2 separate regions of the Homo sapiens genome follow, and region 2 is linked to region 1. The links come from fine-mapping of genetic effects on gene expression. A gene starts in region 1. The other region holds a variant in brackets. All regions are shown on one strand. Distances are from middle to middle. Region 1 holds the start of ABCC4 (ATP binding cassette subfamily C member 4 (PEL blood group)). Region 2 overlaps ABCC4 (ATP binding cassette subfamily C member 4 (PEL blood group)).

Region 1 (5,369 bases):
GAGCTATCAGAAAGGTAGGTTATTGAATGATCATAGCTTTCCCACAGTAGTCAACTTAAAATATTGTGTTCCTTTTTGTGACAGAAATTCTGAAACATGAGCTGGTATGCTGGCGAGTGCCTACAATCCCAGGTACTTGGAGGGGTTGAGGCAGGAGGATCCCTTGGGCCCAGCAGCTTGAGTCCAGCCTGGGCAACATACTGAGAGCCCATCTCCAAAAAGAAAACCATTCTCAAACATGCATGAAATGTAAGAAAATAAACCCCTATGACACATCATTTGGCTTCAAAAATTATCAATATTTTGCCATTCTTATGTGCTTGACTTTTTTTTTTTTTGAGACAGAGTCTCACTCTTTAGCCCAGGCTGGAGGGCAGTGGTGTGATCATAGCCTACTGTAGCCTCCAACTCCTGGGCTTAAGCAATCCTCCCACCTGAACCTCCAGCTGGGACTACAGACTCACGCCACCACACCCATCATATTTTTACATTTTTAGTAGAGATGAGGTCTCCCTTTGTTGCCCAGGCTGGTCTAGAACTCCTGGGCTCAAGCAATCCTCCCACCTGAGCCTCCAGGTTACATGGGACTACAGACTTACTCCACCATGCCCATCTAATTTTCACATTTTTAGTGGAGATGAGGTCTCCCTATGTTGCCCAGGCTGGTCTAGAACTCCCGGGCTAAAGCAATCCTCCTGTCTCCACCTCTCAAAGTGCTGGGATTATGGGCTTGTACAGCCTGGAGTGCAGTGGCACCTTCTTTTTTTTTTTGAGACGGAGTTTCACTCTTGTTGCCAAGCTGGAGTGCAGTGGGATGATCTCGGCTCACTGCAACCTCCGCCTCCTGGGTTCAAGTGATTCTTCTGCCTGAGGTTCCTGAGTAGCTGGGATTACAGGCATCCACCACCACACCCAGATAATTTTTTGTATTTTTAGTAGAGATGGGGTTTCACCATGTTGGCCAGGCTGGTCTCGAACTCCTGACGTCAGGTGATTCACCTGCCTCAGCCTCCCAGAGTGCTAGGATTATAGGCGTGAGCCATTGTGCCCAGCCCAGTGGGCACCTTCTTAACTCCTTGTAGCCTGGAACTCCTGGGCTAAAGCCATCCTCCTGTCTCAGCCTCTCGAGTAGCTGGGACTACAAGGGTACGCCACCACACCTGGGCTAATTTTTAAAACTTTTGGTAGAGACAGAGCCTCACTATGCTGGCTAGCCTGTGCTTGACTTTTAAATATGTGTTTGTGTAAGGCTTTCTTTAAAAGCTATTAACTATACTATTTTAGCAAATATACATGGGAAATTATCAAGGAACAATAAAATGATCTTGTTCCAAGCACCATGAACTTGGAGCCTTTCATTTTTTTTCATTCAGGGTGGATATGAAGAGCAGCTGCTGACCTTGTTAAGGTAGCCACAGAAATGACTGAAGACTTAGAGGTGGGAGTACACAAGCTTGGAACAAGATTTTGTTCATTCATTCCTACAGCCATTCAACCAGCATATTCTGGGCACTTCTCATGCACACTGGCCATCCACCAGGGAGACAGGCCATGCTTAGACATAGGCTTATTGCAAATCATGTTTTATCCTTTCTTGGCTCTAAGACTGGACAAGTTCTGCCTTTCAGCTTCACCTTCCTCATCTATAAAGTAAGGATAACCTTGAATGGGGCACTGATAGAATTAAAAGTGAGATAATTGGTCGGGCGTGGTGGTACATGCCTGTAATCCTAGCACTTTGGGAGGCCACGGTGGGAGGATCACTTGAGCCTAGGAGTTTGAGACCAGCCTGGGCAACAAAGTGAGAAATTATCAAGGAACAATAAAATGATCTTATTACAAAGAAAACCAAATTCTCAAACATGCATGAAATATGAAGAAAATAAACCTCCATGACAATCATTTGGCTTCAAAAATTATCAGTATTTGAACTTGGAGCCTTTGATTTTGATTTTTGCATCTCTACAAAAATTACAAAATATGAGCCGGGTGTGGTGGCGGGTGCCTGTAGTCCTAGCTACTTAAACTGAGTTGGGAGGATTGCTTGAGCCCTGGGAGGTCGAGGGTGCAATGAGCCATAATCGTGACACTGTGTGTGAGACTGCCACACACACACACACACACACACACTAGTGAGGCTACGCACTCAGAAATGCACATGAACATCACTGGTATTCTGGAACCCACGTGTCGTTTGCCACTGTTATCTGTTAGGCTTTAGGGCTTGACGACAGAAATCATCAGGCAGTCTCTCTTTCCTCTTATATTCCTTTCCCAATCTAAGGGGGCAGCAAAAAGCTCAGAGGTCCACCGTAGCATGCAACATGTGAGATGCCTAAAGCCCGCCCCCATCGACGACAGCATTCATCCATCTCCCGAATTCATCTGGGTCATACTCTCGAGTTACCCGGCTTTCTTGAGGTCTTGCAGCTCTACAAGGATAATCTGTGGCTAAACTTTGCTGTCGTCCAAGGTCAAATGTTTGGCTCACAGGTTGAAGAGCCTCCCATGGCACCGTCGTTTGGTCCTGAGAAGGGAAAGGCGCCCAGGGGGCGGGCTGCTAGAGCACGAGGCAGCTGTCTCCCAGTCTTCCCAAACCCGTAGCCGAGGGGGCGTTTCTGCGGCGCAGGGGCGGGCACAGCCGACGCCTCCCTGCTCCACCTTCTGTGTCGGCGCCTAGACTCGGATAGTGAATTTCGGAAAGTTTCACTCGGGTTCGTGCACGTGGGCACCTCCGGACCCGGCCTCCTTGCCGCGCGCTCTGCTACCCTCTCCATCCAGCGGCGCAGGCGGCCCTCGCCTCACCCCTGGGCGTAGCTCTGGGCTCCCTTTGGCGTCGCCAGCTTCGCCTCCTCCCGCCGCGTCTCCTCCCGCCGCGTCACCCGTCGGTCCCGGCCGCGCTCGCACGCGGTGCGCAGCTCCCGGGCTCCAGGCGGCGGCGCGTAGCGGGCGCCCCCGAGGCGGCGGGCCTGAGAGGCGGGGACGGGGCGTGCCGCCGGCGCCCGGCTCCCGGAAGCGGCTGCTTCACAGGCTCCAGCCGAGCGGACAGGCGTGGCGGCCGGAGCCCCAGCATCCCTGCTTGAGGTCCAGGAGCGGAGCCCGCGGCCACCGCCGCCTGATCAGCGCGACCCCGGCCCGCGCCCGCCCCGCCCGGCAAGATGCTGCCCGTGTACCAGGAGGTGAAGCCCAACCCGCTGCAGGACGCGAACCTCTGCTCACGCGTGTTCTTCTGGTGAGTGTCCCCGCCCGAAACAGGTCACCCTGCAGCCGCTGGCGCCGCGGACGCACTCTCCCGGGGCCGCGCCCGATGCTGCCCAAGCCCTCTGCGGCTGGGGGCGAGGGGAGCGCTTTCCTACGCCACGCGGTCCACGCCGGGGCTTTCTGCTGCGGGTGGCGCCGCCCCCACGCCGGCCGCGTGGTCCCTGCCTGCGCCCCGGGGCGCGGCGCAGGGGGACGCGGGGACGCGGGGCCAGTGGCTTTGCTACTGGAGGCCCTGCGGGCCCTTAGGGCTCGGGGGAGGAGGAGCAGGAGGTGGGGAGGCGGGGAACCCAGGCTGCCGAAAGGGGGAGTCTCTTGCCCAGCGGGAGAAGCGACTGCACCCCTTACACGCCCACCCTTCGCTGGCTCCCGCCTCCTGCTCTGGGACTCGCAGTCTCCTGAACTCAAACGCACCTTTTCCTTTCTTTTTAAGTAAGCAGCTTACGAACAGTTTCCTTTATCTGATCTCAGCCAAAGCCTAATTAGTGTCCTGGACCTATGCCATCTCCCAGTAGTGTCCCCACCCCTTCCGATATTCCTTACGAGACAGCTCGATCCAACTCCACGTCCCGTTGTACCTCTCTGTGTCCCGGTGTCTCTGTATCTTTTGTCTCAGTGACCAGGGCTCTCCTTTTGCCTCTTTGTGGGAATCTCACTGTGTGTCCATGTGGGTCGTGGTACCTAGTTATGGCAAGTTTCATGTGGGTAAAATAACACTATTATTATTTTTCATTTATGAATGGGGACCCTGTTCTTGAACAAGATTTTCCAGGATTTGCTTTTAACTGGGACATGCACCGCCACGACTGGAGTCTGTCTTTGACCAGCTTCTTTCCCCTGTTTCCAATACTTTCACTTCCACGTAGGAGGACAGCTCGGAGGTGGGGTCCCTGGAATCGCTAACCTTCAGAGAGGTGATCCATGGTCTTGATGCAGGTGGTTCCTACCAGGAGTTCTACCTTCTTAAAACCACCCCAGGGCTCCTGAGCTGGGAGGGCCCACAGCCCTACCCATTTTGTGCAAGGAAACAAACGGAGAAAGACTCGGGTGACAGTAGTAACTAAAATTTCCATCTTGGCCTGGCGCGGTGGCTCACGCCTGTATCCCTGCACTTTGGGAGGCAGAGGTGGGTGGATCACGAGGTCAGGAGTTCGAGACCAGCCTGGCTGACATGGTGAAACCCCGTCTCTACTAAAAATACAAAAATTAGCCGGGTGTGGTGGAGCACGCCTGTAATCCCAGCTACTCAGGAGGCTGAGGCAGGGGAATTGCTTGAACCCAGTAGGCGGAGGTTGCAGTGAGCTGAGATCGCCCCACTGTACTCCAGCCTGGGTGACAGAGTGAGACTCCGTCTTGGGGGAGTGGCGGGTGTGTGTGGGGGAATTCCGTCTGCTAACTACATAAGCCTGAACCTTTGAAGGGCTTCAATCTCACTTGGATGATTATTAGATCTTCTGTTTCTTGACCTCTGCCGCCTCATCTTTCCCACATGTTGATATTGCCTTTTATTATGGGACAACCTAGGGTGGGGGTCTCCAATTTTTTGGGTTCCCTGGGCCACACTGGAAGAATTGTCTTGGGCCATACATAAAATACACTAACACTAATCATACACTAACACTAATGATAGCTGATGAGCTAAAAAAAAATCGCAAAAAAAAATCTGATGTTTTAAGAAAGCTTACGAATTTGGCAGCCCATGGGCCTCAGGTTGGACAAGCTTGACCTAGGGGATTCCAAGAGGATGAGTCGCTTACTCTTGTTTCGATTGTGGTACACTCAGTGGGTGTAGGAACTTCTCTTGGTTGTTTGGCGGCCTTTCTCTTAAGGAGAGGGGCACGTGGAGGAGGAAGGAATATGGGTGTGGTTTCTGCAAATAATAACTTGAGGTAGACAAATGGTCTCCTCAACTTCAGGCAGGGCAAGGAACTTTTTTTTTTTTTTTTTGAGACAGGATCTTGCTTTGTGCAAGCTGTGACCCAGGCTGGAGGGCAGTGACACATTCATAGCTTGCTGCAGCCTCCAACTCCTGGGCCGAAGCAATCCTCCTGCCTCAGCCTCCCGAGTAGCTGGGGCTCCAGGTGTGTGTCACCATGCCCGGATAATAAAAA
Region 2 (5,369 bases), 55 kb after region 1:
TGGCATCGATCTCAGCTCACTGCAACCTCTGCCTCCCAGGCTCAAGTGATTCTTGTGCCGCAGCTTCCCGAGTAGCTGGGATTACAGGCATGTGTCATCACACCTCGCTAATTTTTATATTTTCTTACTAGAGATGGGGTTTTGCCGGGCTGGTCTCGAGCTTCTGGCCTCAAGTGATCCGCCTACCTCAGCCACCTAAAGTGCTGGGGTTACAGGCATGAGCCACTGCCCAGCCTTTTTCTTTATAAGTTTTTAGTAGAAGTGGGCATCTCACTATGTTGTGTAGGCTGGTCTCAAACTCCTGGGCTCAAGCCATTCTCCCTCCTCAGCCTCCCAAAGCTCTGGAGTTACAGGTGTGAGCCACTATGCCTGGTGCATGTTAATTATTATCATTTAATGATTAATGATGTTAATTATTATCATTTAATGATTAATAATGTTAATATCATTTAAGTGATTCCTAATGGATGACCATTTTGATTTTTCTTTTTTTTTAGTAAAAAGAATCTCAAAATATTTGAATAAGTTCTTTCTGTCCTCTGCAAGATTACTATTTTGTCCTTTCGTAACTAATAAATAATTTGTACCTAGATAATTTTGGATTATGTAAATGTCCCATCAAACCTTCACTGACTGGTTTTAGCTCCCATTGAAAATGTTTTCTAACCTCATCATTCTTTATCTGAGAGTTTTTCCTTCTTACCCCATTTATGTCTCAGTAAGGATTCGTGGATTCTTTTGTTATTCAGTGGGTTAGAATTCATTGCTGTCATGATTTATTTGGATGCTTCCATTATCACAGACTTGTCTAGTGGGACCCCGTCAAGCTGGGTCCTCTGTTCTTTGGGCCCATCCTCTTGATTCCTTGAATGTTTCCTTATCGTATGGTATCTCATGGGCCATCTTTTTCTGCCCCAGCCTTTGAATCAGCTATTTCTTCAGGAAGCTCTGGTTCCTTTTAGATAATAATGGTTTTGGAAACCAAGATCTGGGCACCAGCATGCTCTCAGCTACTGGTGTGTCATTGCTTCTGGGGCCTGTCTGTGGATAGAGCTAGGGACTGTGTGTGTGTGTGTGTGTGTGCACATGTTAACTTTTCTCTCTCTAGCTCTATATATTCATATCTGTCTGTCTATATATAGCTGTATGTATTTTAAAGGTAAGTTTAAGCAAAACCCATGGAGGTAGGAGTCTACTTAAACACGGATGTGTAATTCTGGATATATGTCTCTTTTCTCTTGTTAACAGGTGGCTCAATCCCTTGTTTAAAATTGGCCATAAACGGAGATTAGAGGAAGATGATATGTATTCAGTGCTGCCAGAAGACCGCTCACAGCACCTTGGAGAGGAGTTGCAAGGGTAAGTCGGAGGCAGTAAAGTGGGCATTAAGGAAGCGTGGGTGTCTGTGTGTGGGGAGTGGGTTTTGCCTTCCTGGGTCCTGTCTGGAGCCTCCGTTTACCCTTAAGGTGAATATGTGTCACCTTCCTCAGGCTGCCCCTAGGCTCAGCCTACCATGGTGGCCTGGGGGAAACTCCTGTTGCCTGTGCCTCCGTAGAGGTCAGGGGAGCCAGCACCAAAGGCCCGAGATGCCTGAGGTCTGTCCCTCTAGGTGGAAGTGTTGTGGTTGGAGGAGGTTGTCTGGCTTATCTGTGCTACTGATGGGGCTTCAATCCAGTAAAGCTTGGCAGTAACTTGTTTCCCCAGACTTCCCCTCAAGGCCTGTTTTTCTGATGCTCCAGATTCTGTACCACACATAACCTTCAGGAGCCCTGGGAGCAATTAGTAGCATTTATGAAATCGTCACAAAATGCCCTGTCTTAAATGCATACCTGTCACTCTGCCATCTCCCCTGTTTTATATTGTGGCAGGGTTCACTCTTATTTACGAAGCTTTTTCCTCATTGTAGGTTCTGGGATAAAGAAGTTTTAAGAGCTGAGAATGACGCACAGAAGCCTTCTTTAACAAGAGCAATCATAAAGTGTTACTGGAAATCTTATTTAGTTTTGGGAATTTTTACGTTAATTGAGGTAAAAGCTTTTACATACCATGAATTGTTTTTCAGGACACATAGAGTAAATGTGCTCGCCATTGACTGGTGCTGTAATGGATGGGGGAACAGAAGGGAGAAGTGGCCAGATGGGGTTTGAAGGTATTTTAAGGTCTAAGGATTAAACATGTCTAGGAAGTATTAGGTAGTTAGTTCAGTGAGCGTATTTATCCAGGTGAATACTTAAGTGACTGAAGTTCAAGGTCATTATTGTTTTTCTTGTAACCAATTAAAATGCAGTGTCATGGAAGAAGAGTATTTTATTCTATGGTAGGACAATGTTGGTGCTCGGTAAATGTTTTAAATGCTAAGAGTCACTCCTGGTCAAAAGAGGATCCTACAGCCTTGAGGAGTGCGTGCCCTGTGGTTTAGAGGAAGTGATTTTGGATCGGAGCCCAGAATAATGTAAGACATTTTACAGGTGCTCAACAAATAATTGTTCACCAAGCCAAATCTGATAATTGCTCTTCTGGAGAGGTATTGTCACCTCTCCCCTCTCGGGGAAACAGAGCTGAGGGCCTTGCACCTGGGCTGGCGGTGGTGCCCCAGAGGCTGGAGCTGGCTGAAGCACCCAAGAGCTACCCCCTCCCAGTGGGCCCAGGTGCTGGGAGCCAAAATCCCCTCTGGGAAGAAGGTCCGAGGACTGTGCACCCAAGGGGATTCATCACACCCATCCGGTGTGTCTTCCTTGTTGTCG[G/A]AGTGGATTGCTGGTTGGAAGGTAGAGTCTTGGTGCCTGGCCCTGCAGAGAATGTATAAATGGACATTCCATGAAAAATCAAAGACAGCCAGAAGGGCAATAACCTCTGTTACCCCGAAGGGCCTCTCTTGAGATCTGCAGAAAGACAGTGTTCTGCCTAGGCACACTGCCAGGTAGCTTGTCCGTTCTGGTCTTTGGCCTGCTAGAGGAGATGCAGAGGGTCCTGCTGGGTGACTTGTGTCCTCTGTGCTACCTTAGGGATGTCAGTGGTCCATTAAAGTTAGAGGGGTGGATGTTGCTGTTGTTACAAAAGGGTGGCTTTAAATGCAGGATGGGGAGTTGTCACGGTGCATTTTGTTGGGAATGAGGTGGGTGGGGGGAGGGGGTTGGTTTGTATGTGGGGGGGTTTGCTCCTGTTGAACATGCTTTTTGTTGTGGAGGGCACGGTGGGCAGTGGGAGGCAGGTAGGTGAGCTCTGCCCTACACCAGAGGAATCTGTCAGACAACAGGGGACTGGACGGTCCTGGGAGATGAATGGTCTCATTGGTGACAAAGGTGTTTTGGCCAGGGTGCCAGATGGTGAATGCCACCTTTGAGAGGGTACCCGCCCTGCCTGCATGCTACTGTGGCTTTGTGGCAGATGGGGTGGACATGCAGAATAACCGGTGGAACTGACTTGAGGGTGGAAGAGGGCTAGGAGCCCCTCAGGTTCTCCCAGCCCCTCTTCAACCTGTGCTGGGGTGTCCCAGCGATAGTGTTTCCACATGGCCCCGATCAGTTTCAGTTGGAAAGAAATAGAATGACAAGTCGGTGTCAATGTGGCCAGTGTGTGCAGGATTTCCTGGCCCAGTTTGGCTGTGCAACCTCAGAGAAGTTGTCTGGTAGCCATGGAGCCTCTGTAAGTGTCTAAGGCTCATGCCAGGTGTCTGGTTAGGTGTAGTGGGAATCAATGGCCTCACATAGGTTTCGAGGCATGCCTCCCTCAGCTACTTCCATTTCTCTAGTTTCCCTTTGTCACCAGCTGCTTATGAAATTGAAAACAGGATGATTTAGAAGGAACTGAGCTTGTCATGCTCAGGGCTGTCCATGCTGTCATGGGCTGCCAGCCACTTGGGGTGGGGTCTCTAACCCACAGATGGTGACTGGACTACAGTGAGATTTGGGTAAGCTTTTGGGAGAAGCAGGCACAGAAGTAGAGGCTGTAGAAGCGTGAATTTCTCCTGAGACTTGAGGACAGGCCCCACTCTGGTGCAAGGAGCATGGTAATCTTTACTGCTGGTGGGCATGTGGGAAGGGGCCCGGATCGAGGGGAGCTTTAATATGGGTACAGTTGGTGGAGAGCTGGTCTTTTAGCGGGGTGGTTATTGGGCAGTCATGGCAGAAAAGTAGGGAGTGGAGGACCTGGCAAATATGGGGGCTCATGCTCAGTACTGCTTAGCAGCAGCAGTGCTAGTAGAAGCAGCAGCAGGATTAGTAGTGGTTGGTACTCAGTAGTAGTAGTAGCAGCAGCAGTGATAGTAGCAATAGTTGTAATAATACTGACAGTGAGTACTTGAAAAATACTATGTACCAGGAACTGCTATGATTTCTTTCTTTCTTTCTTTCTTTCTTTCTTTCTTTCTTTCTTTCTTTCTTTCTTTCTTTCTTTCTTTCTTTCTTTCATGTTATTTTATTTTATTTTGTTTTTTGAGATAGGGTCTCACTCTGTTGCCAGGCTGGAGTGCAGTGGTGCTATCTTGGCTCACTGCAGCTTTGGCCTACTGGGCTCAAGCAGTCCTCCCAAGTAGCTAGGACCACAGGTGCACGCCACCATGCCTGGTTAATTTTTGTATTTTTGTTTCACTATGTTGCCCAGGTTGGTCTTGAACTCCTGGGCTCAAATGATCCTCCCACCTTGGCCTCTCAAAGTGCTGGGATTATAGGCAGGAATCACCATGCTCAGTCAGAAGGCATTCTTTTAACCCTACTTTTGGGAAGAGGACACTGGGTGCCATGTAGTTATATAATGTGCCTAGGGCCACACAAAGTGTAAATGACAGAGCCCAGATTCAGTCTCAGGAGCGCTGACTTAGGGACCTAACCATCTCCAGACTGTCGTAAAGGTGTCTTGAGAACTCTGTCTTCAGAGTATCCAGCACATGCTTCTTGAACTTGGCCTAGGGATAAGTCAGATGCTAAGAGCTCCCTGGAACAGTGGGGCATGGCTGTGGGAAATCAGATTGGGGATTATAAATTACCCTAGGTTCCTAGGTGTCCTGGTGCCGGAAAGTCAGGTGACATGCTAGAGAGTGGCTGGGGTGCTGGGCAGGTCAGAGCACCAAGGTACATTCAGGTTGACCACGAACTCTTTTTTTTTTTTTATGTTTTCGTCTGAGGTGGGGTCTCACTCTGTCACTCAGGCTGGAGTGCAGTGGTGTGATCTCAGCTCACTGCAACCTCCATCTCCCTGGGCTCAAGCAATCCTCCCACCTCAGCCTCCTGAGTAGCTGTGACTATAGGCATGCACCATGCCTGGCTTATTTTTTGTATTTTTAGTAGAGATGAGGTTTTACCATGTTGTCCGGGCCGGTCTAGAACTCCTGAGCTCAAGCCATCGGCCCACCTCGCCCTCCCAAATTAATGGGA

The links. PIP is the estimated chance that this variant, and not a neighbour inherited with it, causes the effect.
Region 2: its variant is fine-mapped to the expression of ABCC4 in whole blood (INTERVAL, PIP above 0.99).

What each region holds. Positions count from the first base shown.
Region 1 is chr13:95,299,104-95,304,472 of GRCh38, reverse strand. ABCC4 (ATP binding cassette subfamily C member 4 (PEL blood group)) reads left to right here and starts at 3,022. Exons shown (of 31, transcript NM_005845.5): 1 at 3,022-3,232. The coding sequence starts at 3,159. LOC102724149 (a long non-coding RNA gene) reads right to left here and starts at 3,522. Exons shown (of 3, transcript XR_429273.4): 1 at 3,210-3,522; 2 at 2,147-2,527. RefSeq lists silencers at 2,517-2,576, 2,757-2,816, 2,847-3,486 and enhancers at 2,303-3,077, 4,680-4,739.
Region 2 is chr13:95,243,633-95,249,001 of GRCh38, reverse strand. ABCC4 (ATP binding cassette subfamily C member 4 (PEL blood group)) reads left to right here. Exons shown (of 31, transcript NM_005845.5): 2 at 1,249-1,359; 3 at 1,907-2,027. Among named protein-coding and RNA genes, the nearest start is that of SNORD13G, 36 kb to the right of the region's middle. RefSeq lists an enhancer at 3,950-4,029. The variant G/A (reference allele first, on the strand shown) is at 2,745.